7 linked regions of the Homo sapiens genome follow. The protein of the gene in region 1 purifies or fractionates together with the protein of each later gene. This does not show direct contact. Each region holds a gene or a part of one and is shown on either strand. Other genes may lie near its edges.

Region 1 (4,172 bases):
CAGATAGGAACATTCTGTACACAAGGTTGAAAACTTGATTTTTTTTCACTCGACAATGTAATCATGAAGGCTATTCTATGTTAATATACTGTATACCTATCCACCCCATTCTTAACAGTTGCATAGCATTTCCTTATATGAATGGGACACACAGTGTCTTCTGGATGCCAAGTAGCCAGGTAGTTTGTAGTCTCTTGATATGACAGACAACATGGCTATTATCAACAATATCTTTACATGTGTGCAAATATATCCACAATGAATTATTTGAAGATATAAGTAAAAGTGTACGTACTTTTTTTTTTTTTTTTTTGCCCATGACACAGCACTCAGGATGTCCTAAGAACATGTGCCCTACATTTTAAATGTTGATAGATACAGCACAACTGCCCTCTGAAACACTTATATAATTTTTACAAACATCACCTCTGGATAGGTCCCCTTCTTGCAGCCAACTTACATGAATAAACCACAGAAGATTCACTATGATGACTGTAGGAAGAGGATGGAATCGGGGTCTAAAGTGAGCTTGTAATGAGTGGTGTGGGAGAAGCTGGGCATCCAGAAGTGGGTCGTCTTCAATACTCTGGGTGATATCCAAGGAACCCTGGGGTGCAGAAAAACAAGCAACCTATAATCACCACTTTCTAGATTATGTTTCTAAGACAAATCTACTAAACTACAGAGCTTTTTAACCACATACAAATTAAAGGCAAGAGAACACATTGCCTACCTGAATCCAATTTTTTAAAAATTAATTATTAATTTAATTTAATTAATTAAAAAATTAATTAATTTTTTAAAAACTGTAGCAACACGGTCTCACTATGTTGCCCAGGCTGGTCTTGTTTGTTTGTGTTTTGTTTTTTGTTTTTGAGACAGTCTCGCTCTGTTGCCCAGGCTGGAGTGCAGCGGCGCAATCTTGGCTCACTGCAACCTCTGCCTCCCAGGTTCGAGCAATTCTCCTGCCTCAGCCTCCTGAGTAGCTGGGACTACAGGTGTGCACCACCACACCCAGCTAATTTTTTTTTTTTTTTTTTTTGAGATAGAGTTTCACTCTTGTTGCCCAGGCTGGAGTGCACTGGCACAACCTTGGCTCGCCGAAACCTCCACCTCCCGGGTTCCAGCAATTCTCCTGCCTCAGCCTCCTGGGGTAGCTGGGATTACAGGCATGCACCACCACACCCGGCTAATTTTTTATTTTTAATTTTTAGTAGAGATGGGGTTTCTCTATGTTGGTCAGGCTGGTCGCGAACTCCTGACCTCAGGTGATCCGCCTGCCTCGGCCTCCCAAAGTGCTGGGATTACAGGCATGAGCCACCGTGCCCGGCACACATCCAGCTAATTTTTGTATTTTCAGTAGAGGGAGGGTTTCACTGTGTTGGCCATGCTGGTCTCAAACTCCTGACCTCAGGTGATCTACCCACCTCGGCCTCCCAAAGTGGTGGGATTACAGGCATTAGCCACAGTGCCCGGCCCCAGGCTAGTCTTGAACTCTTGGCCGCAAGCTGCAATTCCAGCTACTCGGGAGGCTGAGGCAGGAGAATCACTTGGACCCAGGAGGTGGAGGTTGCAGTGAGCCGAGATTGCGCCACTGCACTCCAGCCTGGGCGACAGAGAGACTTCGTCTCAAAAATATGGATATATACTGCATTGTATATACTTTTAATTTGCTAAGAGTGTAGATCTTAAGTGTTCTCATCACATGTTAAAAAAAAGAAAAAAAGAATATGGTTCATGGGAAGCACATAACAAATCAGCAAATGAAAAGCATAGAAGACAATGCCAAAAAATTTAGGTCAGCTAACTGCACTACAATGAGACAGAAATGAAGGATTCATGAATAGGTTTTGGCTACACAGAATGAGAGCTCTTTATTTTGGAAGTAGGTAGTAGGACAAATGATGTAAGAGATGGCTGTTGATTGCTAAGATTACAAAGATAAGGACAGTAATCTAGGGTGTAACCTAGCTCTGGAGTGGGCTCCTCAATTTCCAGTAGCAGGTATTCAACACTGCTCTGCAACTGTTTTTGTTGTTTTGTTTGTTTGTTTGTTTTTGAGATGGAATCTCGCTCTGTCGCCGAGGCTGGAGTGCAGTGGCTCAATCTCGGCTCATTGCAACTTCTGCCCCCTGGGTTCAATCGATTCTCCTGTCTCAGCCTCCTGAGTAGCTAGGATTAAAGGCACGCGCCACTATGCCCGGCTAATTTTTGTATTTTTAGTAGAGATGGGGTTTCGCCATGTTAGCCAAACTGGTCTCAAACTCCCAACCCCAGGTGATCCGCCTGCCTCAGCCTCCCAAAGTGCTGGGATTACAGGCATGAGCCACCGCGCCTGGCCAAGTCTTTTATTCAATGCCTAGATTGCTTCCTGTTTAGTTTACCATAACTCATGGTACAATTCAGATTACTCCTGTTCTCTTCAAGACCCCTCTGCCTCTAGCTCATTCTCAGTCAGCAGATGTTGGAGCCTTGAGATCTGCTCTTCCCTTAGCTAATGTCTGTGCATTCTTTCATGCTCAGAAGGGGCAATTCCCACCACAGGGCCTTTCTGGATACCCCTAATCTGGATTGTGCCACCCTCCATGTTTTTCAAAGCATTCTGTGCTTGCCTCTTCTATCAAACTATCCTGTGATGGTCTCTTACTTATCTCTTCTCCACTAGACGTCATTGGACCCATTACCTTTACACCTCTTGTCTTTGTAATCCCAGCACTCAACACTATCTCATGGTTGTCACTCAGCAAACATTTGCTAGATGAATGAATGAGTGCCCCAAACCTGTTTCTGCAGTATTTTCTAATTCAATTATGGGCATCATCAAAGACCTGGGCTAATTAGAAGAGATTATCAGGACATACGGGGGATCAACTGTGACCAAAGGCAGTAAGAGCTGTGGTTAAGGTCAGGCTCCTAAGGGCAAACTGCCTGGATTCAAGCACAAGTTTTACCGCTTTCTAGCTGAGAGCAAGTTACTTCATCTCTCATGCCTCAGTTTCCACATCTAAAAAGGAGACTAATAATAGCACCTGCTTCGTAGCTCTGTCAGGAATACTAAATGAGTCACTACACATGCAAGTCCTCATGACACTGCCTGACGCACAGAGAGCACTCAATAAGTATTAGCCACTATTATTTCTTTATTAACTCTTTTCTCTTTTTAATATTTTTTAAATTTTAAAATAAAAATCAACAGGGTCTCGCTATGTTGGCCAGGTTGGTCTTGAACTCTTAGCCTCAAGCAATCCTCCCAAGTGCACTCCCAGTGTGCTAGGATTACAGGTGTGAGCCACCACACTTGGCCTTTTTATTAACTCTTACTTTTGACTTGCACCCCGCTATGGTCTAAATGTTGGTGTCCCCCAATAGTTCCCTGCTTTCCTTTGGGAAGTAATTAAGCCATGAGGGTTCCCCCCCTCATAAATGAGATCAGTGCCCTTATAAAAGAGGCTTGAATGAGCTCCCTTCCACCTTCCACTGCGTGAGGATGCAGCAAGAAGGCGCCATCTTTGAAGCAGAGAGCAACCCCTCCCCAGGGCTCTTGGCACCTTGATCTTGGGCTTCCTGAATCCGTGGCTGCCTTAATCTTGGACTTCCTGTCCTCTAGAACTGTGGTCAATACATTTCTATTTGTAAATTACCCTATTTGTATTTTACTATAGCAACCCAAACAAAGACACTACCCCTATAATCATTACCATTCTATCCACTCAGTGCTGGGGCATGATAAAAAGAGAAAAAATCATTACCATTCTAACTCCTAAACCTGTTATTTCCTCTCTATTCTCACTATCTTAGTCCAGGCCCTCCCATTTCTCATGGCCTTTTATTAGAAGCTTCCAGTCTTCTGGTCTTGGCAATCTCTTTCACTGCTCCAAGACAAACATTCGTGTTTCTCTCCTCAAAAACTTTGGGTAGCTCCCTATGATGGTCAATATTAAGTGTCAAATGGATGGCAAAGTATCGTCTGTGAGGAGCCAAACATTTGAGTCAGTGGACTGGGAGAGGAAGACCCACCCTCAATATGGGCAAGCACCATCCAATCAGCTGCCAATGCAGCTAGAACAAAGCACAGAATAGGCGTATAAGCAGCTTGCTGAGTTTTCTGGCTCTCTCTTTCCTGCGTCAGATGCTTGCCTCCTTAATTCCTGCCTTTGGACATCAGACTCCAG
Region 2 (4,026 bases), on another chromosome or scaffold:
AGAAAGTAGAATTGAAAAATACAAAAATTGAGCTTATTTTTAAATAATAAAGTGTTATAAAGTTTATTAAAATTTAGTTTTTAAAATGTAATTTACCTACATTTAAAATTTTTATCATTTTTTAATTGATAATAGGGATTTAGGTGAGAGTTGTTTTTTCATTCTTTCTTTCTTCTTTAAAAATAATTCATTTTGGCCAGCTTTAGTGGCTCACACCTGTAATCCCAGCACTTTGGGAGGCAGGAGGATTGCTTGCACTCAGGAGTTTAAGACCAGCCTGGGAAGCATAGACCCTACCTCTACAAAAAAATTTTTAAAATTAGACAGGCATAGTGGCACGTGCCTGTAGTCCCAGCTACTTGGGAAGCTGAGGTAGGAGGATTTCTTGAGCCCAGGAGTTGGAGGCTGCAGTTAGCCATGATTGCACTACTGCCCTCCAGCCTGGATGACAGAGTAAGACCCTATCTCAAAAACAACAACAACAAAAGAAAAATTCATTTTACTTAAAGTAAGATTTAGTATGTTTAATCTCATGAGGTTCACTTTTCTAGTCGTTTTATGCTTCAAAGGAAAAAAGTTTGTGAAACATAGTTATATATATATATTTTTAAATAGTAGTTAGAATTTAAATGTTCACTTATCAGTGTAATGGAAGAAATGCTTTTTTCTAGAAAGTGAATCTTTGGAAAATGTTCAGTATTAAATTTTTTTATGTAGTTTTAATTATATAGCTAATTCAGCCATCTGTCTTGAAGGTTCATTCCGTTGTGGCAGTTAAAATAATCACTGAAATATTATTGAATGATATTGACCACAATTTTTAAAATACAAAGTATATTAATATTACAGGTGTAGTGATGGTTTGTGTCGTTCTGCGTTACATGAAATATCGATGGACAAAAGAAGAGGAGGAAACAAGGCAGATGTATGATATGGTGGTAAAGATTATAGGTATGATATTTGTAAGAATCTCAACTATTTCTAGAAGAGTCATTGCATGATTAAACTACATTATGTCAAGTGATTGATTCATTTGTAAATTTTATTTATTTTTAGATGTTTTACGAAGTCATAATGAAGCCTGCCAGGAAAACAAAGATTTACAACCTTACATGCCTATTCCACATGTACGCGATTCCTTAATACAGCCTCATGACAGGTGTGTTCAAAGCATTATGAGTTCAAGTAAATCAGAAAATTTAAGTGCTTTCTGCAGTATTGAAAATTATATTGAGAGCTGTGACCCTTCTCAACTAGACTTGCTTACTGCACAGGTTTTTTTTGGTTTTGCTTTGTTTTTGTACTTTATACTCTCTTTCTAAATTCTCTTCCATTCTCCTGATTTTGAGTGACACCTGGATTTCTAAGTCATTCTCATTCCTAGGCATTCTTGATTCTTTGTTGTTAGTCTCCATCTTATTTCCTTTAATTTCATCTTGATAAAGAAATAGATGACAGCCAGTGGCTGGTGTTTTACTAATGTTTTTTAAGTACTAACTTTATTATTAATGAAGCTTTTAAAGTAAAAACTAAAATGCAACTTTTTGAAAATAAAAGATAATTCCATATCCTGAAGCAGCATCTTGACCCTAGCAACACATAAAGCCAGTGGAGCTTTTGGGGAAAAAAAATACAGATGTTTGTGCTCTAGCTCTGGAAATTGAAACTCAGAAAATCTGAGATGAGATATAGGCATCTAAATCTTCTTTGAACAAACTCCATGAGTAGTGGTAAGAACAGCTAGAGTTAACTATTACCTCAGATACTAATATTTCAAAAAGATGACAAGCCAAGATGATAGTAAATTTGCCATTTTGTTCACATGATAGGAAAAAAATGAAGAAAGTCTGGGATAGAGCTGTTGACTTCCTTGCTGCTAATGAGTCTAGAGTTCGCACGGAAACACGAAGAATAGGTGGTGCAGATTTTCTGGTTTGGCGGTGGATCCAGCCTTCTGCATCCTGTGACAAAATATTAGTTATACCTTCTAAAGTATGGCAAGGTCAAGGTATGTATTTTTAAACATCAAAAAAGTAATTTTCTTCTAATTTTTCAAAATGACAAATATGTGTTAAGTGAAACAGTACAATTCAAAGATGTATGAAGGCAAAACTCTCTCGTTCTGTTTCGTAGAAGGAATCAGTGTTAGCTTCTTATGTATCCTTCCACACTTTTATCTTTGCTAATGCAAACATAAATGGTTTATCTTTAATAAAGATGAATATTCCTTGAATCTTGCCTTTTTCACTTAATGAAGCAACTTAGTATTATATATATTAACTGCATTCTTTTCATCTAATTTCTTTATGTAAATAAGACACATAATTTATGTTATATATACAATAAAATATATATAAACTATATATGTATATAAGTGAAGTCATAACTTTTTAACTGCTCTTTTTTTTCCAGTTTTTGCCTGCCTCCTCTTACTAAGACCTTTCTATTTATATATTCCTCCTGCCAAGTAACTTTTGTGGGTATCTTTCCATATTTTTCTTAATGCCTACATAGTTTCAAAAACATGTATAAATAAGAAAGGGGTAAGTTTATAGGGGGTTTTGAAGATTGGCTGTCATATGTACCCAAACCTTTACTACACAGAAAAGCAGAAAACAATGCATCAGAAAATTATGACTTTTTCCCTATAAAAGTATGTCAGTATTTGCTAAACATAGTATTTGTGGAAAAGGTAAGTTGTTTTGGACATGCAATACAAAGTCCAGTCACTCCTTTTTTATTCTCCAATTAATTTTCACTTTGAAAAAGCTTGAATAAGAGGCTTCTTTAAACATGGCATAAAAGTGATGCTCTGTCAGGGTAAACAGCTAAAGCAGGCAGGGCTTAATACCTGGGTGATGGGTTTGAGTTGATAGGTGCAGCAAACCACTATGACACACGTTTACCTATGTAACAAATCTGCATGTCCTGTACATGTATCCCAGAACTTAAATTAAAAAAATGATGCTTTCATGTTGCCAATGATTATACTATTTCCTCTAAATGATGCATGCATTTCAGTTTCCCTATAAACTGAAAATAGAGAATTCCTTATTTTACTTGACCTCTTAACAGTGTTTGACAGTTCAGCCCTCCTTGAAACTTTCTTCACTGGGATTTGGGGATGCCACCTTCTTCTGTTTTTTTTCTCCTACCTCAGACTTTTTCTTCAGTCCTTTTCTAGATTATCCTCTTTTTCTTCACCTCTAGGTGTTAGAGTTTCTCAAGGCCATCTTTTTTTTCCCACTCTGCCATTTCTCCCTAGATAATCGTCTTGCTGTGACTTAATTTACCATATTGGGATAACTCCCAAATTTTTTATTTTGAATGAAGTCTGGTTTTCAGATTTTTGTACCCAACTATATATTTCTGTACTAGGAGGTGGGCACCACAGATTCAACATGTACACCAGCCTGATCCTCTTCAGTGTTCCTAGTCTAGTTAATGATACCTTTCCTGAGTTGATTCTGCCATAAACTTAGGGATAATTCTTAATCTCTCCTTTATCCCTCTTTGTCCAACCTTTCAACAGGTCATGTCATATCTACTCCATAATATGTCCTGATTCTATCCGCTTGTCACTTGCACTGTTGGCCTGTCTTACCCACATCATTATCCTCTCCTTCTTAGACAACTATAATATAATAATAACCTTCTAACTGGTCATCTTGCATTCACTTCTGCTTTTACCTGAGTCTCCACATAACAATGTATTTTTAAAATATGTAGTTTTAAAAGACAGATCTCATCCTATTCTACTCCTTAAAACAGTTGAGTGGCTATTACTCTTACCATAATGCCCAAATACTTTTTTGTAGCCTACATCATCTTAAATAATCTGACATCTTCTGTAGGTTTATCTCTATTCTTTCTACTCCAGCCACATTTGCTCCTTCGTGCCCCAGGAGCTGTGTACAAGCAATCACCTCTGCTTGAAATCTTCCTTTACACACCTCTCTTCACCCTGCTAATTTTTATTCTTCAGTTCCCACATAAATTTCACTTTTTCAGGGAAGTTTTATTTTC
Region 3 (4,172 bases), on another chromosome or scaffold:
TTGGGAGTGTGCACAGATGGGGAAAGCTCCAGGGATGAGTCCTGGGTCATCCGTTCTTTAGTGAGGAAGGGACGCCTGAAAGTCAGAAGCCAAGAAAGTGTTTCAGGAAGGGGTGACCAATTATGTAATGCTGCTGAGAGGTGAGAGAAGCTAAGAATTAGTCACTGGCTTTGGTAGGAGGTGACTGGTCACCAGACAAGTATGGCTTCAGGGTAGTGGAAGGTGACACAAGACTGTCTAATGTGAGTCTAAGAGAACAAGTGGTGAGGAAGCAGAGCCAGATTCTAGGCAGCTCTTTCAAGGATTCCATTCTGAGAGGGAAGAGGCTGGTGGCTGGGGAAGAGGTGGCTCTCAGAGGTCATGGATGGGCTTTTGGGAGGGAAGTGATCCAGTAGAGAAGCAGAGGCGTCAGAGCTCCTTGCAGAGATGAGGAGAGAACCCAAGTGCGGGTGGAGAGGCCACCCTAAGCGGTGGCTTCCCCCAGGAAGTAACCTGGTGGTGGGAGAACGAGCCAATTCTCTCTTGGCTCTTATTTTCTCGGTGATACAAGTGAGACATCACCCGAGGGTGAGAAGTGGGGAGAAGGTATAAAGCAGTCTGGGGTCGGGGAGGGAACTCCTAGCAAATGCAGTCAAATGGCTGGAAGTGCGACAGCTCTTGAGATGCGTGGATGTGAACTGCAGGCTGGTCTAGGGCATGACTAGCAAGGAGGCCGGTGACAGCTCACCTGTGTCTGCAGGACCGCTTGCCAGCTGGCACTCCTGCTGCCAATCCTTGGGCACGACGGGCTCTGTGAGGCGAAGGAAGTCCTGCAGTGGGCAGCGGTGAGGGCAGCCAGGCAGGCTGAGCGGCCAGGGGGCCTTGTCACTCTCGTTCCGAAAGTACATCTCCACTGAGAAATTCCTGAGGGTCGACAGGAGGCAACATGGGAGCTGCTCAGCCTGCCCATCATGGGGTCCTTGGGCTGCCCCGAGCCACCTCCCGAGGGCCCCCCTCCAGAGGACACTGCTAGCTCCACTCACCCAGAATCTTCCTGGTACAGTTCAAATATGTGGCAGGAGGCGTAGGGGGCTTGTTCACCATTGTAGACATCCAGTGCCATTTGCAGGGCAACCAGGGTAGTGTCGTGCTGCGGGGGAGAGGGGCTGCCCGTCAGCATTGTTCCCCACACCCGCAGGAACCGAACAGAGAAGAAATCCAGCTCCTTGCCTGACACAGCACGCTAGGGAGCGCAGGCACTCACCGCAGAGTAAACCAGCAGCTTGGGGAGCTGGGAGGTGGTCGCCATTAGGGTCAGGTTCTTCCTTATCTGAGCCAGCAGGACTCCTGAAGGAGAAAAGTCCCCGGTGTTGCTGGCTACAGCCACCTCTGCCTTCTAATTAGACCTATCTGTGCTCCTTTCACCCTCTGCCAGGCCTGGGCCTCATCACCTACACGGAGAACTCTTTAGTGTCATAGGGACCATGTAAGAACTCTGTGGCACCCCTCCTCTCTAAGAACTGTCAAATGTACAGAAGGAAGCAAGACAAAACAAGATATCTGCCTATATTTCAACACGGATGTAGAAACCTGCCTGTGTTTACAGAAGCACTTCAGTTTGAAACAAATGTAAACTTAAGATTGCTTCAGAGTACACAGCGGGTGGGTGCATGCCCGGGTAACTACCATATGCTCTGAAAAGTGAGATGTCAAAAAGGTGTGACAGCAGGCATGCCCTTAGGTGCTCAAATAAGGAAGCTGGCATGTGTGTTACTCTCAGCCTTCTCAAAATGGCCCCCAGTGGTTCTCTTGGGGCAGCTATTCATTTAGGAGAGGGAGGGTCTTCTGATGTGGGCGAAACTTAAGAACATGAATGGCAGGGCTGGGCGTGGTGGCTCATGTGTGTAATCCCAGCACTTTGGAAGGCTGAGGCGGGCAGATCACCAGAGGTCAGGAGTTTGAGACCAGCCTGGCCAACATAGTGAAACCCCATCTCTACTAAAAATATAAAAATTAGTTGGGCGTGGTGGCAGGCACTTGTAGTCCCAGCTACTTAGGAGGCTGAGGCGGGAGAATCGCTTGAACCTGGGAGGTGGAGGCTGCAATGAGCCGAGATCGTGCCACTCTACTATAGCCTGGGTGACAGAGCAAGACTCTGTCTCAAAATAAATAGGCTGGGTATGGCGGCTCATGCCTGTAATCCCAGCACTTTGGGAGGCCAAGGTGGGTGGATCACCTGAGGTCAGGAGTTCAAGACCAGCTTGGCCAACATGGTGAAACCCTGTTTCTACTAAAAATACAAAAATTAGCTGGGCATGGTGGCTGAGGTCAGGAGTTTGAGTCCAGCCTGGCGAACATGGTGAAACCCCGTTCCTACTAAAAATACAAAAGTTAGCCAGGCATGATGGCATGTGCCTGCAATCCCAGCTACTCAGAAGACTGAGGCAGGAGAATTGCTTGAACTCAGGAGGCAGAGGTTGTAGTGAGCCAAGATCGAGCCATTGCACTCCAGCCTGGGTGACAAGAGGGAAACTCCATCCCCCCGAAAAAAAATAACAATTTTTTTAAAAAGAATATGAATGGCAGAAAAGGAAGAGAGGTGGGGAAATTTGGTGACTAGCGGCATGAGGAGGGGGATTTGGTTTTGAAAGAGCAGGGAGTGTTTCAGTAGAGAGGGAAGTGTGTGAGAAGCCCCCACAGCAGATTTTTAACGCCTTAGGGTCCTGAGGAGTAGAGTGACACGCTGTCCTTGTCACTCACCCCCCTGAAGCCGGGCCTTCTCCGCCTGCTGGTAGATTCCGAAGAGGAAGCGGAAGCTGAAGTCCTTTAGCCGGCTGAGACGCTGCATGGTTTGGGGTGAGGCCCAGGGCGGCAGGCGCAGCCCGTGCGTTTGCTGTGTATCGCAGCAGGCAGGTTAGCGCCCCAGGCCTAGGCCAGCCTCTCCAGGGGGCAGCTCTCTTCCCTAGTGGGAAGGTGCCTGTGTGTGTGAGGGAGGGAGAGGGGAGAGAGGCAGAGGGGCTGGAACCAGTAGACATGGCAGGCGGTGTGGATGCTTCAGGGCACAGGAAAGGAAGCTCAGGCACAAAAAGTGAGACTCAGCAGAAAGGAGCTCTGGGTGGAGAGCAGCAGGGACTGCTGACAATTAATAAACCATTTCCCACTCTGAGGATCTCTGTCACCCATGAGGGAAGTTCCCGTGTTTCACAAGCACAGCCTCCCTGGACCTCCCCAGGGGCGTGACGGTATCAGGCACTGTGTTCTACCGTCCTGGTGACCTGGGCCTGCTGAGAGGGAAAAGAATGATCACAGTGGGCACCCTAGTGGGCTCACCTCACAGAAGAGTGTGTCATAGACATTCCAGACGGTCTCCAGTGTCAGGTCTGTAAGCCCTGTCTCGTTGGCCACCATGTCCAGAAATTGCTATGAAAAATGGATCAGGGTCTCAGTCCTGCTCTGGGGAAAAGACAGCGTGGTGAGCTGCACCTCTGCCCCCACTCACTGCATTCCGAGAACTCTCATTCTGATACTCTGGTGTCTGCCGGGTCTCGTTCTGCAGCTGCTCATAACGGGGACATGGGCCCAACGGGAACTTCAGCAGCTGTAGAGCGAAGCGGGGAAACAGGCAGCGGGAAAAGGAGCCTGGCATCAGCAGGCCTACGGCCAGAGCTGTCCCCTCACCACCCCAGGGAAGGGCTGGCCACTCTTACCCTGTCCTCAGTGATGGGCACAGTGTGCACAGGAATAGGCTGCCACGAGATGTTCGGGTTGAAGCGCTGCATCCCGTTGGGAGGGAAGAGTCCAGCCAGGTTGGCCTCAGCACTCATGAGAGTCCGGTCAAAGTCTGTGCTTCGCACATAAACCTGCAGCGATAGCAACACAAGTCGTGTGTGTGTGTGTGTGTGTGTGTGTGTTGGGGAAGTTTTGGTCACCCTGAAGTGGAGCCTTGTATGTATGTGTGTGTGTGTGGTGGGAAGTTTTGGTCACCCCAAAGTGGAGCCCCAGAGGAGAACCTGTTCCTGATGGTCACCCAGCAAACTAAACCTACCATACATCTGGCCCTCACCCTCCTCTGGCCTCTGGCCTTCCCCATCCCCCAAACACTCCACTGGGGGTTGTCACCACTCTGTGAAGAACTCTTGTGGGAATGGCCTTAGTTGAAATGCCCCTTCCAGTCAAAAGTGCTGAGTCAATCA
Region 4 (4,172 bases), on another chromosome or scaffold:
AACTATTTTCATTTCATATGCAAATTTGTCCTTGTTTCCTACTAAAAATTCTCTGAATACACAAGAATCTCAGAGTCCTAATTTTGGATACCAACAACACAAAGTACTTCTAACCTAAATGATATGATTTTTCAAACTTTCTTTTCAACCTTAAGAGCAGAACTTCTAGGGACAAAAAATAGCTGTTTCTCCCCTTTGATATGAATTATTATGCAAAGAATGACAGACATAGAGACTGCAAAGGCCAAAGGGACATATGCAAAGTAGAGACATTAAGTTACAAAAAGAAACACATGAAAAACTTGAGAGCAAGTTTCAAGGCATCCATTCTTCCCCCTGAGGAATTCATTTTTAAGGTTAAAATATATCTTCAAGCCTCAGCTCAGTATCACCTTTTTCAGGAAGCTGTCCTTCCAGTACTCCTTACCACCCGCTGGGTTAAATGCCTCTCCCAGCTGCTCCCAAGACACTCCACACACTATTATCTAAGTATTACTGTACCTCACAGCAGTGAATTTATCTATTTTACCCCTGCCCACTAAAGTATAAAATCCTTGAGTGAAAAATCATATACTTCCAGAAAGCACACAGTAGATGCTCAATAATTATTTGTGGCCTGTAATCCCAGCACCCTGGGAGGCCAAGGCGGGAGGATCACTTGAGGTCAGGAGTTGAAGACCAGCCTGACCAACATGGTGAAGCCCCATCCCTACCAGAAACATAAAAATTAGCCGGGCATGGTGGCCCATGCCTGTTGTCCCAGCTACTTGGGCGCCTGAGGCAGGAGAATCGCTTGAACCCAAAACGCAGAGGTTGCAGGGAACCAAGATCACACCACTGCACTGCACTCCAGCCTCGGCAACAAAGTGAGATTCTGTCACAAATAAATTATTACTATTTGTGGAAGAGGTGGGTGAATGAATGAATGTTGTCCATTGTCACTCATCACTGGAGACCAGCACCATACTGTCTCATTAAACATATCTAGCACCATGTCACCTATGGTGTGCTCAGTGCCCCAGAGTACACAAGCACAGGAGGCAGAAACACACATAGCAAGTAAAGCAAGCAGCAAAGGTAAACACCTTTTGTGTCTATCATTCTTCCTATCTCTATCCTAATTACAAAGGAAGCTCTAAGAAGCCCCAAACCAGAAAGAAATGCAAAAATCCTCCAGAGCAGAGGTGGCATATAGCCAAGAGACCTCAAAGGGAAAGAAGGCAGGATAAATGGTAGATTGGTAGATTTTAAAATGTTCTTGGCCGGGCACAGTGGCTCACGCCTGTAATCCCAGCACTTTGGGTGGCCGAGGCAGGCGGATCACAAGGTCAAGAGATTGAGACCATCCTAGCCAACATGGTGAAACCCTGTCTCCACTAAAAATTCAAAATTAGCTGGGCATGGTGGCACATGTCTGTAGTCCCAGCTGCTCAGGAGGCTGAGGCCGGAGAATCGCTTGAACCGGGGAGGCAGAGATTGCAGTGAGCCAAGATCACACCACTGCACTCCAGCCTGGGTGACAGAGCGAGACTCCATCTCAAAAAAAAAAAAATGTCCTGCCCCTTCCTGAAATATGGAGTAGGAGATATTCTTAACTACAACCACAGGTAGCAGGGCTGCTAAGGGAGTATAAGGGTGGCAGGAGTTTCAATGGATGAAGACAGCTCAGTAAAGGAAAGACAAGAAGATTCTCGGAAATCCATGCCATCTGACAACTCAGATAAGCCTGCCAACCTGATCCCTGGGAGAGAGTCTGGCAAAGATGGTGGCAGGACCAGTTCTAGAAACCAGAGAACAAAGCATGTTACTAGAATAGAATCTCAGGCTCATGCCTGTAATCAGCACTTTGGGAGGCCAAGGTTGGTAGGTCTCTTGAGCCTGGGAGTCCCAGATCAGCCTGAGCAACATGGTAAAACCCTGTCTCAACTAAAACTACAAAAAAAAATTAGCCAGGCATGGTGGCATACGCCTGCAGTCCCCGCTGCTTAGGAGGCTGAGGTGGGAGGATGGCTTGAGCCTGGGAAGTCGAAGCTGTGGTGAGCTGAGATTGCACCACTGCACTCCAGCCTGGGCAATGGGAGTGAGACCCTGTCTCAAAAAACAAAAAAGAATAGAGCCTCAGGAAAGGGCTAAGGTAAAATACAGTTAATAGACACAGAACAGGATCCGGGAAACAAAGCAAAATCCTATTACCTCAACTAAGACCAAAGACAGGTGGCAACCTGGAACAGGGAGGACTGGATGTTGTTTCAGGATGTGCTAAGGCTGCCTAAATAACTACTACATGGAACAATGCGGGTAAGGGGGAAAATTACTACGCTATATCCCAAAGTAAAACAGAACTCTGACCTACCACAGGAATCTAAATTTTTTTAAATGCTAATGTGTTTTAAAGGTTAGTATCCTAACATTTGAGGCTAACTGCTCTAGGCTTCAAGTAATGATAGCTTTTGGTAGAGGGCCAATCTAATAAGCAGAGATAAGAAGGCCCCAGTTGAGGAACAGTAAATAGGAGGACCAAGGTAGGCCTGACAAGTAACATGGACCACTTCAAAATTCCAGCCTTCTGTTCCAGCATGGTGGCTCACACGTGTAATTCCAGCACTTTGAGAGGTGAAGGCAGGAGGGTTGCTTGAGAACAGGAATTTGACACCAACCTGGGCAACACAGTGAGGCCCTATCTCTACAAAAAAATAAAATAACTAGCCAGGCATTGGGTGCACATCTGTAGTCCCAGCCACTTAGGAGGCTAAGGTGGGAGAATCGCTTGAGCCAGGGAGGTTGAGGCTGCAGTGAGCCATAATCATGCCAATGTACTCCAGCCTAAATGACAGAGCAAGACCTTGCCTCAAAAAAATAGAAAAGAAAAAAAAAAAGTCCTAGTCTTTTAAGAGTTAGAAAGCCTTGGAAGGCTTTCTATTACAATCTCCCAAGCAAAACAGCAAATCCCTCCATTCACATCCCTCAAGGAACAGGTAGTGTGTAACAATAGTTAGCGTGTATGTTCTAACATCAGACCTCCTTAGGTTTGAATCCCATCTCTGCCAGTCATTAGTTTTTCACTTTATCCCAGCTATTTAACCTCTCTAGGCCTTGGTTTCTCATCTTAATAGAAAATAGTAATAGTTCTCATCTCAAAGAGTTGATACCAAGATAAATAGTACAAAGTAAATTGTCAGTACATGTTAATCATTATTATTACCCTACTTCTACTTAAATGCTTCCAATGAAAGGGAAGCATGTATTACTTCCCAAAGCAGCACATGGCATTTTCATAATGAATAAGAAAAATACAGCCGAATTTGCAGCTAAAATTTCCCAAAAATTTGACATCTGTAGCCCCAATGGAACAAAGAACTAGATAACCAACAGTTAGCTGTGGAGGGAGCCTCAATTACCTTCTCTGTTGACTCTGTTTGATTTGACCAAATGCAAAAGGCAGGATAAAGGAAAATTACCACGTACCGCTTGTTCACTACTCTCATGTCAGAGGTATCCTTTAATTTGCAATGAAAGACAAAACAACACTTTCTAAAGTTTTCTTGTATACCAATATATTCTAGTCTTATTATACATTACCATTTTATTTTTTCACACAAAGCACTATAAGAATATATTCCTCATATACTTTTTTTTTGAGACGGAGTTTTATTCTTATTGCCCAGGCTGGAGTGCAATGGTGCAATCTCAGGTCACTGCAACCTCTGCCTCCCAGGTGCAAGAGACTCTCCTGCCTCAGCCTCCCAAGTAGCTGGGATTACAGGTGCCTGCCACCATGCCCGGCTAATTTTGTATTTTAGCAGACACAGGGTTTCACCATGTTGGTCAGGCTGGTCTCAAACTCCTGACCTCAGGTGATCCACCCGCCTCAGCCTCCCAGAGTGCTGGGATTACAGGCATGAGCCACTGCGCCCGGCCCTCATATACATTTTTTATGAAATACCTTTTAAACATGCTCAAAGTGTGAATTAGGAAAGTGAAAGAAATAAAAGGTATCCAAATAAAAAATACGTAAAATTGTCTCTTTTTGCAGATGACATGATCTTATATATAGAAAATCCTAAAGACTCCACCAGAAAACCATTAGAATAAATTCAGCAAAATTACAAGATACAAAATCAACATACAAAAATCAATTGTGCTTCTATACACTAACAATGAACTATCCAAAA
Region 5 (4,172 bases), on another chromosome or scaffold:
TGCAGTAGTGCAATCTCAGCTGACTGCAACCTCTGCCTCCTGGGTTCAAGTGAATCTCCTGCCTCAGCCTCCCGAGTAGCTAGGATTACAGGTGTGCACCACCATGCCTCGCTAATTTTTGTATTTTTAGTAGAGACGGGGTTTCACCATGTTGGCCAGCCTGGTCTTGAACTTCTGACCTCAGGTGATCCACCTGCCTCAGCCTCCCAAAGTGCTAGGATTACAAGCGTGATCCACTGCACCTGGCCAATTTAATAGTAATGCCAAATAAAGTCTACTTAAGTGCCACTATAGTATGGTCTCCAATACTGCAAAACCTTGTTCTGATCCAATAAAAAGGGACCACACAACTCAATAGAGGCAAAGCTGATTTTAACCTCCAGGGCTCTGGAACAGCAAACCAGTGCAACTCAACACATTTTTCTTGACTGCATAAAAACGTAGACCCTATTAGGCTATTCCCTGGCTTAAAATCCTGTGATGGCTCTCTATTGCTTTTAGGATAAAATGGGGTCAGCTTATTAATATGTCCTGCCTGACCCTCCTCAAAGAAGGCAAGGTGTATCTGGATTTATTTTCATGTTTTAGCTGACAGACTTCTTGTGTTACGGTTTTAGAATGAAGCTCGTAAATTAAATCACCAGGAAGTTGTGGAAGAAGATAAAAGACTAAAATTACCTGCAAATTGGGAAGCCAAAAAAGCTCGTTTGGAGTGGGAACTAAAGGAAGAGGAAAAGAAAAAGGTTAGGAACTATTCTATCTTCATAAGTGATTTAGTCAATCATTCTGTTGTATCAAGACACTACAACATGGTGGTTGTATACACTGGCTCTTAGGCCAAGCTGCCAGAATTGAAATTCTGGCTCTGCTCAGTACCAACTGCAACACGTTGGGTGAGTTTATTTAACTTCTCTGTACCTCTGTTTTCTCATCAATAAAACAGGGACTGTAACAATAATTATTTGAGTTCATTATGAATTAAGTGAGTTAATGCATGTAAAACATTTAAAACAAGGTCTGACACCTGATAAACACTCAATAAGTATCATGTGCTCACTTATATACCATAGTATATTCCCAAATTTCCTTTAAATGCTATTAAAGTGGCCGGGTGCAGTGGCTCATGCCTGTAATCCCAGCACTTTTGGGAGGCCGAGGCTGGCAGATCATTTGAGGTCAGGAATTTGAGACCAGCATGGCCAACATGGTGAAACCCCATCTCTACTAAAAATACAAAAATTAGCCGGGCATGGTGGCATGTGCCTGTAGTCCCAGCTACTTGGGAGGCTAAGAGATGAGAATCCCTTGAACCTGGGAGGTGGAGGTTGCAGTGAGCTGAGATCGCGCCACTGCACTCCAGCCTGCGTGACAGAGTGAGTGAAACTCCAACTAAAAAAATACTATTAAAGTATTGGTTGATATTTATTGGATCTTTCTTGATGTAAAGTAGATCAAATTATTGCATGTATCATAATTGTAGGTGTCAGCTTTTTTCTTCTTTTTAGGAATGTGCGGCAAGAGGAGAAGACTATGAGAAAGTGAAGTTGCTGGAGATCAGTGCAGAAGATGCAGAAAGATGGGAGAGGAAAAAGAAGAGGAAAAACCCTGATCTGGGATTTTCAGGTCAGATTGACCTTTATTGAACCTTATTGACTGGGCTGTTAGTCATTTCCTTCATTGTTTCTGGTTTCAAGAAAGGATGTGCCTCTTGTGCTTCGTGGGATATTCTTGATGAGGCTTAAGACCAAGAAAAGTACAAATATGTCTCTTAGGAGAGAAGTTAAAAAAAAAGGCTGTACTTCAGTTAGCCAGGTTTTTAAATACTTGATGATAAAATTTATCAAAGTCTGTTTGTCAGCATCTTCAGGATAGAAGCTATGCTTAGAATAGTGTTATGGGCATATATTACTTCACACAGATTGAGTATCCCTAGTATGAAAATCTGAAATCCCAAATGTTGCAAAATCCAAAACTGTTTGAATGCCAACATGGTGCTATGATGCTCAAAGGAAATGCTGATTGGAGCATTTCAGATTTTGAATTTAAGTATAATAAAGATATTCCAAAATCTGAAAAAAATCAGAAACACTTCCGATTCCAAGCGTTTTGGATAAAAGATACTCACCTGTGATAATTTAGATTTTTCTCTCAATAGGAAGGTCCAAACAAGGAAATATATTATCGCTGATTCTCATTTTATATTTTTAGATTATGCTGCTGCCCAGTTACGCCAGTATCATCGGTTGACCAAGCAGATCAAACCTGACATGGAAACATATGAGAGACTGAGAGAAAAACAGTAAGTCCTTTTTCAACCTGAGGTGATGTGGATGTATTTGTGTGTGTGTGTGTGTATACATGTACATAAATAGAAACATGCTTTAATGCTAAGGTATGGGTTATTAATAGTTGTCTAAGGATGGTCTCTGTTTTTTCTGGATATTTTTTTCCTTTGAGATGGAGTCTTGCTTTCTCACCCAGGCTGGAGTGCAGTGAATGGTGCGGTCTCAGCTCACTGCAACCTCCGCCACCTGGGTTCAAGCAATTCTTCTGCCTCAGCCTCCTGAGTAGCTGGGATTACAGGCGCCCGCCACCACGCCCAACTAATTTTTGTAGTTTTAGCTGAGATGGGGTTTCACCACGTTGGCCAGGCTGGTCTTGAACTCCTGACCTCAAGTGATCCGTCCACCTCAGCCTCCCAAAGTGCTGGGATTACAGGCGTGAGCTACTGCGCCCGGCCCTTCCTTTTTTTTTTTTTAAGAGACGGTGTCTCGCTCTGTTGCTTAAGCTGGAGTGCATTGACACTGTCATAACTCACTGTAACCTCAAACTTGTGGCCTCAAGGGATCCTCCCACATCAGCCTCCCCAGTAGCTAGGATTACAGACATGTGCCACGATTCCTGGCTAATTAATTTTTTTGTGGAGACGGGGTCTCACTGTGTTGCTCAGGCTGTCTCAAACTCCTGGCCTCAAGTGATCCTCCATCCTTGGCCTCCCACATGGTTGAGATTACAGGTGTGAGCCACTGTGCCAGGCCTAGTCTCTGTTTTGACAGCACTGTTTATTGCTTACTTCACAGCTATTAAATTAATCACATGTTTTTTGTTTTGTTCTTAACTGGGCATTCTAAGACTGGTTGTTGATTGGTTAACACCCTGATTGTCGTAGTTACTTAGATATTATTTTAGGAGGCAGAATGCTTTAGTGCTGGGGTTGGTGAACTTTTTCTGTGAAGGACCAGATAGTAAATATTTTAGCTTTGTGGGCCATATAGTCTCTGTCACAGCTATTCAGCTGTGCTGCTGCAGTGCAAAAGCAGCTGCAGAGAATTCATAAATGAAGCCTCTTTTCATAAACAGGTGGTGGGCTGCTGTAGTTTGGCAGCTTGTTTTAGTGGAAAAGGAAATAACCTCAGGATGGAGCTCTAATCCCAGCTCTGTTCCTAGCACTTTGTGACCTCTGATAAGTCCTGGAGCCTCTCTGCCTGTTGGCTCTTTGATCTGTACAGTGAAGGTGTTGGCGTAGATGATGTCTTAGGTTCCTTTCAATTCTGTAATTTTTTATTTTTTATTTTTATTTTTATTTTTTTTTTGAGATAGAATCTCGCTCTGTCGCCCAGGCTGGAGTGCAGTGGTGCAATCTTGACTCACTGCAGCCTCCGCCTCCTGGGTTCAAGTGATTCTTCTGCCAAGTAGCTGGGACTACAGGTGCCCGCCACCACGCCTGGCTAATTTTTTTGTATTTTTAGTAGAGATGGGGTTTCACCATGTTGGCCAGGCTGGTCTTGAACTCCTGACCTCAGGTGATGTGCCCACCTTGGCCTCCCAAAGTGCTGGGATTATTGGTGTGAGCCACTGCACATGGCCCTATTTTTTTTTTTTTGAGACAGAGTCTTGCACTGTCGCCTGGGCTAGAGTGCAGTGGCGTGATCTCGGCTCACTGCAACCTCCGCCTCCCGGGTTCAAGCAATTCTCCTGCCTCAGCCTCCCAAGTAGCTGGGATTACAGGCATCTGCCACCACGCCCAGCTAATTTTTGTATTTTTAGTAGAGATGGGGTATCACCATGTTGGCCAGGCTGGTCTCAAACTCCTGACCTTGTGATCCGCCCACCTCAGCCTCCCAAAGTGCTGGGATTACAGGCGTGAGCCACTGCGCCTGGCCTCCACATGG
Region 6 (4,172 bases), on another chromosome or scaffold:
TTAAGGGAGCGCTCTGGCAGAAGGTGCCATGCTCAGGGGAGTAGCAAGAGAAAAACAGATTTTGTGACAACTCCAGGTCAATGTGAAGAGAGGAGTCTTGCCAGAAGAAGCAGCAGTCTGCACTGAGCAATCAGGACAGAAGTTCATGGACATTCTCAATCAGATCATGATCTGGGAGCTCTACCACATCCAGTTCAGATGCTTTCTGTATGTTCCCTATAGTTGCCAATGGTTAACAATGGTCTGGATTTCTAGCTTTTCTCAAACATCTGGCAACCCTCAGCCAGTGTGTGCACGAGGTGAAGTGGCTGGAGCTGAGTGTGAGCTGCCCTCTCAGCCTGTAACATTCCTTCTACCTCCCTATCTTCCATCCACTTTTCGGGACCAATGGCCTCTGGTCTCTTTTTTCTTCCAAAGGTTTAGCAGAGTTTTGTCTCCCAAATGCTGCAGGCCTAGAAAGGAAGCTGTGAATGAATTTTATCACCATCTGTGACAAGTGATCAGAGCACATGGACTATGGTCATTTTAGTGGCACTTTGCTAAAGTAACATGCTTCCAATGAGGAGCAGCATTCTACTTTTGGGTGCAGGAAAACAATGTCACTTAAACACTGAGCACTTGTGTGCCAGTGACTGTTCTAGAATTTGGAGATAAAGCAGGAACTGTTTCTATTCATTAAAAGTTATCTAGGAAAAAAATCATTCCATTCACAATAACTATAAAAGTATAAAACATCTAGGAATACATACTTAAAAAAATAACAGCTTTGGCTGAGCATGGTGGCTCACGCCTGTAATCCCAGCACTTTGGGAGGCTGAAGCAGGTCGACCACCTGAAGTCAGGAGTTCAAGACCAGCCTGGCGAACATGGTGAAACCCCGTCTCTACTAAAAATACAGAAATTAGCCAGGCATGGTGACAAGCACCTATAATCCCAGCTACTCAGGAGGCTGAGGCAGGAGAATTGCTTGAACCCGGGAGGTCAAGGTTGCAGTGAGCCAAGATGGTGCCATTGCACTCCTAATAGCTTTGCTGGGTTTTAACTCACATGCCATGAAGTGTACAATTCAATGGTTTTTAGTATATTCAGAAAGTTGGGCAGCCATCAACATTAAGTTTAAAATACTCTCATCACCCCCCAAAAAACCCTATGCCCATTAGTAGTTCCTTCCCACCCCCATTCTATACCATCCTGGACCCAGCAACCACTCATCTACTTTCTGTCTCAATAGAGTTGCCTATTATTCTGGACACTTAATTTTTAAACATTATTTATTTATTTTAATTTTCCCCATTTCTTCTAGTGGACTGTGATTTCTTTCTTTTTTTTTTTTTGAGGCAGAGTCTTGCTCTGTCGCCCAGGCTGGAGTGCAATGGCATGATCACAGCTCACTGCAGCCTCTAACTCCTGGGCTCACACAATCCTCCAGTCTCAGCCTCCCAAGTAGCTGGAACTATAAGCTCATGCCACCACACCTAGCTAATTTTTAATTTTTAGTAGAGATGAGGCCTTGCTATGTTGCCCAAGATGGTCTCAAACTCCTGGTTTCAAGTGATCCTCCGGCCTCAGCCTCCCAAAGTGCTGTGATTTTAGGCATGAGCCACTGCATCCGGGCTGGACATTTCACTGAAATGGAATCGTACAACATATGGTCTTTTTGCAACTGGCTTCCTTCACTTAGCACCCATGTGGCAGCATGTGTCACTACTTCATTCCTTCTTATAGCTGAATAATATTAGAATGCATGGATAAGCTGCCCTGTTTATTCACTTACCAGTTGATGGACATTTGAGTTGTTCTTACTTTTTGGCTATTACAAATAGTGACATTTTATATTCCCACCAGTACCTAGGAATATGTTTACTGTGAAAGGCAAAGGATCATATTATAAATCAATTATAGCATGGGTGTGCCTGTAGTCCTACCTACTTAGGAGGCTATGGTGGGAAGACTGCTGGAGCCCAGAAGTTGGAGGTTATAGCGAGTGATGATTGCACCACTGCGTATCAGCCTGACTGACAGAGCAAGACCCTGTCTCTAAAAAAAAAAAGAATCAATCAATCTTACTGAAGGAACAGAAACAAGACCTAAAATAGTATCATGGGTGGAATGTTTTGTTTTTTTTTTTGAGATGGAGTTTCGCTCTTGTTGCCCAGGCTGGAGTGCAATGGTGCAATCTCGGCTCACTGCAACCTCCACCTCCCAGGTTCAAGCAATTCTCCTGCCTCAGCATCCTAAGTAGCTGGGATTACAGGTGCCCACCACCACGCCAGCTAATTTTTTGTATTTTTAGTAGAGATGGGGTTTCACAATGTTGGCCAGGCTGGTCTTGAACTCCTGACCTAAGGTGATCCACCCGCCTCAGCCTCCCGAAGTGCTGGGATTACAGGCATGAGCCACCGCACTCGGCTGGGCAGAATGTTTGTGTTCCTCCAAAATTCCTGTGTTGAAGCACTAACCCTTCAGGTGGCTGTATTTGGAGTAAGGAAGGAATGAAGGTTAAATGAGGTTGCAGGATGGGGACCTGATCTGAGAATTCGTGTCCTTATAAGAAGAGGTGACACCAGAGACACCTTGCTCATGTGTCCTCTCTCTGTGCACACAGCAGAAAGGGCATGGGAGGGACACAGTGAGAAGATAGCCCAGAAAAGCACCCTCACCAGAAACATGTGCCAGCACCTTGCTCATGGACTTCCAGCCTCCAGAACTGTGAGAAAACAAAATGTCTGTTGTTGGACCCTCCCAGGCTGTGGGGTTTTGTTAACGCAGCCTGAGCAGACTAATGCAACAGCCACAACAAAACTGCAATCAATGAGGAAAAAACAGTGGGCTTGAAGAAAAAAATTCCAATCAAAATCTCAACAGAGTTTTATTTGGGGTGTGGAAGGTAAGAGAGGAAAATGGTGGAAACAAAATTATTAAAAAAGAAATGTGGCAGGCCGGGTGCGGTGGCTCATGCCTGTAACCCCAGCACTTTGGGAGGCTGAGGCGGGCGGTTCACAATGTGAGTTCCAGACCAGCCTGGCCAACATGGTGAAACCCTATCTTTACTAAAAAATTACCAAAATTAGCTGGGCATGGTGGCGGATGCCTGTAATCCCAGCTACTCAGGAGGCTGAGGCAGGAGAACCGCTTGAACCTGGGAGGCGGAGGTTGCAGTGAGCCGAGATCACGCCATTGCATTCCAGCCTGGGGAACAGAGCAAGACTCCGTCTCAAAAAAAAAAAAAAAAAAAAAAAAAAAAAAGACTGTGGCAAGAGGAAACTTGCCTCATCAGGCAGTCAAATCAACACAGTCCAGATAAGGGAACATGGCATGGACATCACCAGAACAGACTGGAGAGACCAGAAACAGATCCCAGCACATACGAGCATTTAGCACAGGCCACGGTCTATTCAGGGAGGGAAACGGCTTGTGTAACATAGCTGAATGATTTCAAACAACTGGCTGAGCTCTCTTGAGAGGAAAGGCAAGTCTCTCTTTTCTGCCATAAGCCAAAACAAATTCCAGCTGAATTACAGAAAAATCTGAGGTAGACACAGGAAACATAGAAACTTAAAATGACATAACCAAATAAAAAATTACTTTTTCCCTATGTTCAAAGGACTTAAAAAGACCACAGAGTTGGAAAAGTCACTTAAGATGCAAGTAGAGTTAACTTCAATTCACCAACAGCTCATGAGAACTGAGAGAGGCCCAACCATGTGCTGTGTGCCGGCTGTGTGCAGCAGAGAAAATCCAAATGGCTAAGCCCCAGGGAGGGGAACTCAGAGGGACCAGTAGTCACGATGGTGGCAATTTACACACCCAAAGATCGGCAATGTCAGCAGTGACAGGTGACACCTATTGCTTGCTGGCAAGGAGGTAGAAGAAAGCAAGCCCACATTGCTGAAATGTTATTCCCCTTGGGGAAAGCAACCTGGCACCCTGACTTACAATAAGATACACCCTCCGATTTAACAATCTAACTTCTTAAGGGCTAGCTCTAAAAATAAAAGCATAAAGACAACAGGGACAGTAGTGATGGAAGAGAAAAACTCAGACAGTGATGCCAGGCAACAGGGAACAGGTGGGAAACACTTTCCTACACATATTTGGATTTCCATTCCCTTATATGAACATTAAGAAAAACACAAACATTATTATTTGGGGGTAAGCGTGGCCAAGTCTGC
Region 7 (4,172 bases), on another chromosome or scaffold:
TGTGTGTTTGGCCAGAACCAAGTTCGCATTCAATAATAAAGGATTATTCTTTGATTTTTTAAAAATTTGCTAAAAAGCGGCCGGGCACGGTGGCTCATGCCTGTAATCCCAGCACTTTGGGAGGCCAAGGCGGGTCGAGGCCGAGGCAGGAGATCGAGACCATCCTGGCTAACACGGTGAAATCCTGTCTCTACTAAAAATACAAAAAATTAGCCAGGCGTGGTGACACACACCTGTAGTCCCAGCTACTCAGGAGGCTGAGGCAGGAGAATTGCTTGAACCCAGAAGGCAGAGGCTGCAGGGAGCTGAGATCACGCCACTGCACTCCAGCCTGGGGGACAGAGTGAGACTCTGTCTCAAAAACAAAACAAAACAAAATTTGCTAAAAAGAGTTCCATAACAGCACAAAAATTGTTCTCCTTATATAACTGAATAGACAGGGTAAGTAGGAAAACCATACTCTGAGAATTCTCTTTCCCCTCTCTGAAAGCCAGGGTCTCACTATGTTGCCCAGGCTAGCCTCAAACTCTTGAGCTCAAGTGATCCTCTTGCCACAGCTTCCAGAGTAGCTAGGAGTACAAGCGCATGCCACCATACCCCACCAAGAACACATTTTAAATCATTCTTCTAGCCCTTCATTACCACTAAGTCTTTATTAAGTAAATACCCTATAACACCATTTTAGGTACTACAGAGGATACATGGAAACAGAAGGCTCAATTCTGTCCTACAGGGGATAAACCTAATATTTAATAGTCTAAGATGTTTACATTTAAAAAGACTTAAAAGATCAATTACTACACACACTAAACAAGAAAATATACTTTCTCTAGTATTTAACGTCATTACTGTCAAATTTACATAAAAGTGAAAAAATCAGGACAGATGAAAACCTAGTTAATCCAAGTTTTCATGTTATTAATGTTCTCACTATGTCTCTCTATTCTGTTCTATAAGTTAATAAACTAATAAAAACTTAACTCATCAGCCAACAGGTACATTGACAAGGGAAGAAGTACCCCCATTGATCCAAAGCAGCCAAAAATAAATGAATAAATAGAAAAATATGAGAATAATAGGGGATTTTTTCCCCTGCAGAATTTAAAAATTAAAATCCACAAATAAAATGCTTCAAAATTCCATAGATTTAATGGAACATAAAGTAAAAATTCAATTCGTGGCTTTTGTCCTATGTAGCCCAAATGAGTACTCACAAGCACCAGCTCATTTTTAACATGTGTGAATAGTCTCAAGAAGATAACTACTAGTTTACATTCACATTTTATATGTTCATGTTGTGTATATTCACCACTTGCATGACTCTATTTTACATTTATACCCTTATTTTCTTGTTGCCTCAATTCCTTCACTTATCACATGAAAATTTTTATGAACATCCTGAAATTCTAACACATGGAAGAAGGCAGTATAAGTACTTTTCAATGTAGGACACCCTACACAAAAAGTCTAAAAGATTTTTACCTGCAGAAGGTGATGGCTTTACATCTACAGTAGAGGCAGAAGTGGCTGGGTCTGTGTTTACTGAAGCATCATTCACTTTCTGCTGATTCCCCGTTTTCTTTGTGAAGACATTATTATTATTAGCCTATTCAAAATGTTAATAAGTTGTTAAATGAGTCAATGAATTAGTTATATTTCCTCCTTGCAGTAACTAAGTAAATAATATTTTTACATATTACTTTAGGAAATCCTAAGAAGTCCACAAAGCTGCTCTTGTTTTAAAAGCCAACAAAGACTAAAGTTATACACATCATTTTGCTAACTGACCTAAATGTTGCAAAAGAAATATACTATATTTTGCTTTTTCTTATAAACTCATCAAAAGACCACCAAAATAAGTCATTCACAGAAATCTACTACAAAGTTATAACGTACTCAAAAGGCCCCAGGCCAAATTCATACATGTGAGTGAGTCATACTTAAAGTATCATATTTTTTCACAAAAGCCTTCCTACTTTACTACATGCATTCCTTGCTTGTCTCCTCTGATTTAAAAAAGTAGGACCAGGAAAGTATCATATGCATCACATAGTAAAAGAGAGCTATAGTACCACTTTCAATTTCAGGTTTTAAATATGTTTCTTCTACATTTCCAGGAGTTCCTCAGATAGTAAGCCTTGTATTTAAGCACAGTTTAAGGACCCACATTGAAACATACATACCTCAAAACAAAAACATCTTCTTTGGTATATTACAAATCTACCTACCTATTCTCAAATGGAATAAAAAAGAATTAGCTAACACTCTTTAACTGTTCCTAATCTAATAGGAATAGGAATCTTCATAATATGAGTATGAAGAACTTGCCAATTACAACTGAGACACCATCTAAGACCTAGGGATGATTAATGGTGAACTCCAATGAGGATAGATGTCATGGTCACAAGAGTCAATAATAAGTATTGAGTTTTGAGTGACAGATATTTATCAAGAACTTAAGAGGGAAATTATCTAGAAAAGAAGACTTTTTTCTGTTTTTTCCTTGCTACTGCCCTTGCTTCCTTTGTTGGCTGTCCAGTAAATTAAAATTCCAGACTTTTTTAAAGAAGAGTTATTACAATATTTGGCCAATGACTTGAAATCAAGCAGAGATAAATAATATTTAAAAGGTTGATATTTGGAATATTACAAATTTGATTTTCGAACAAAAATACTAACAACACATTTTACTATGTGTAAATTTAATGATACTTACTGATTGATCTGAAAGTTTGTTTATTTGTTTTTGGAGCCTTTGGCATTCCTTAAATTTTTCTTTATAATGGTCTGCAGCCATCTGAAGACGGAGTTTCAGATCTTCAACTTCTCTTCTTAGTTCGTGTTCCAGTGTATCAGTCTTGTCCTAGAAAGAAACAAACATTTGAAGAAAAAAATAAAAATCTGATACCTCCTAATGTTAATAGTAACCCCAACTTCAATCTTACTTTTTTTCTTTTTTTTGTTTTTGAGACAGAGTCTTGCTCTGTCACCCAGGCTGAAACACAGTGGCCCAATTATGGCTCACTGCAGCCTTGACCTCCTGGCTCAAGCAATCCTCTTGTCTCAGCCTTTGGACTAGCTGGGACTACAGCTGCACACCACCACACCTGGGTAATTTTTGAAAATTTTTGTAGAGATGAGGTCTCACTATGTTGCCCGGGCTGGTCTTGAATTCCTGGGATCAAGCGATCTTCCCACCTCAGCCCCCCAAAGTGCTGAGGTTATAGGTGTGAGCAACTGTCCCCGGCCACTTTTTTATTTTGGGATTTTGGCTACAGAGCAACATAGGGTCTCTTGTTAAGTCCAGTTTTACATTCTTAGGACTAAGGTTCATTTAAAAAACTAGAGAAAAATAATCCACCTCCTGAAGAGCAATTATTACTCCCTTAAACAACCATAATACTGTTTTATACAGCTAGTAAGAAATTCCAAACAAAACAATACATATCTGACATCAATATATTTAATCAATAGGGCAGCTTTCACCAACCATTAAGAATTCTGCTTACAGAAGTTTTCCTTACAGCACACATTAACTGTAAGCCAAGAAGTCACAATGACTAAACAAAAGGAATGAAAATTTTAAATTTAAAATAAGGCAGAAATCTGACCTGTCTTATCTTAACACAATTTACTACTTTGTGAGATTATAGTGGTTTCTTAAATCAAAATGCAAATTCAAAATTAACTTGTTTTACCTGATCTTTTTTCATAGCATTTAGTTTAAGTTCTGCCACTGCATCAGCTAACTGCTTTTTCACTTTCTCGTTTTCCAAGCGTGCAGTATGCAGGTCTGCCATCGTTCTGTCTCGTACGTTGACAGCATCACTGAGTTCTTTAGCCAGAAAGACAACTTCTTGCCGAGTTGCCTGAACCTGTTCCTCTGCTTTACGAAGTTGCTCCTTTAAAAAACAAGTATCTTCCTGAAGAAAGCAGATAAATATATTTGTAATTCAACCACTCAAGTAAAAAACAGAAGCAGAAACAATTTTCGCACATATTTCAACAGGGCCAAAATTTTAGATATTGGTTTTTCTACTCATGACTTACAGAGTATATGCCTACAAAAAACTTAAGAAGTAACTTTGTTTTAGGTTCCCTCTATAACAACCCTATGTACTTGGTTTCACTGCTACTACTTTATACACAAGGAAGCTAAAGTACAGCGAGTC

Evidence for each region.
Region 2: the proteins of TMEM192 (region 1) and LEMD3 purify together in Homo sapiens (co-immunoprecipitation; 2 studies listed by BioGRID and IntAct, with this or other methods). This does not show direct contact.
Region 3: the proteins of TMEM192 (region 1) and ACP2 purify together in Homo sapiens (affinity purification with mass spectrometry; 3 studies listed by BioGRID and IntAct, with this or other methods). This does not show direct contact.
Region 4: the proteins of TMEM192 (region 1) and ERO1A purify together in Homo sapiens (affinity purification with mass spectrometry, with the first as the bait; one large-scale study listed by BioGRID). This does not show direct contact.
Region 5: the proteins of TMEM192 (region 1) and SYF2 purify together in Homo sapiens (affinity purification with mass spectrometry, with the first as the bait; one large-scale study listed by BioGRID). This does not show direct contact.
Region 6: the proteins of TMEM192 (region 1) and RAB7A purify together in Homo sapiens (affinity purification with mass spectrometry; 2 studies listed by BioGRID, with this or other methods). This does not show direct contact.
Region 7: the proteins of TMEM192 (region 1) and TAX1BP1 purify together in Homo sapiens (affinity purification with western blotting; 2 studies listed by BioGRID and IntAct, with this or other methods). This does not show direct contact.

What each region holds. Positions count from the first base shown.
Region 1 is NC_000004.12:165,102,490-165,106,661, forward strand, and holds part of TMEM192 (transmembrane protein 192), read right to left. Parts: intron 608-4,172; coding exon 461-607; intron 1-460.
Region 2 is NC_000012.12:65,239,080-65,243,105, forward strand, and holds part of LEMD3 (inner nuclear membrane protein Man1), read left to right. Parts: intron 1-849; coding exon 850-951; intron 952-1,056; coding exon 1,057-1,159; intron 1,160-1,829; coding exon 1,830-2,008; intron 2,009-4,026.
Region 3 is NC_000011.10:47,241,996-47,246,167, forward strand, and holds part of ACP2 (lysosomal acid phosphatase isoform 1 precursor), read right to left. Parts: intron 3,840-4,172; coding exon 3,687-3,839; intron 3,578-3,686; coding exon 3,479-3,577; intron 3,428-3,478; exon of another isoform or gene 3,400-3,427; coding exon 3,310-3,399; intron 2,873-3,309; coding exon 2,740-2,872; intron 1,327-2,739; coding exon 1,244-1,326; intron 1,130-1,243; coding exon 1,023-1,129; intron 904-1,022; coding exon 728-903; intron 1-727.
Region 4 is NC_000014.9:52,685,336-52,689,507, forward strand, and holds part of ERO1A (ERO1-like protein alpha isoform 2 precursor), read right to left. Parts: intron 1-4,172. UniProt on the Homo sapiens protein: Oxidoreductase involved in disulfide bond formation in the endoplasmic reticulum. Efficiently reoxidizes P4HB/PDI, the enzyme catalyzing protein disulfide formation, in order to allow P4HB to sustain additional rounds of disulfide formation.
Region 5 is NC_000001.11:25,225,569-25,229,740, reverse strand, and holds part of SYF2 (pre-mRNA-splicing factor SYF2), read left to right. Parts: intron 1-617; coding exon 618-743; intron 744-1,505; coding exon 1,506-1,623; intron 1,624-2,208; coding exon 2,209-2,299; intron 2,300-4,172. UniProt on the Homo sapiens protein: Involved in pre-mRNA splicing as component of the spliceosome.
Region 6 is NC_000003.12:128,809,011-128,813,182, reverse strand, and holds part of RAB7A (ras-related protein Rab-7a), read right to left. Parts: intron 1-4,172.
Region 7 is NC_000007.14:27,791,757-27,795,928, reverse strand, and holds part of TAX1BP1 (tax1-binding protein 1), read right to left. Parts: intron 3,924-4,172; coding exon 3,699-3,923; intron 2,864-3,698; coding exon 2,717-2,863; intron 1,607-2,716; coding exon 1,483-1,606; intron 1-1,482.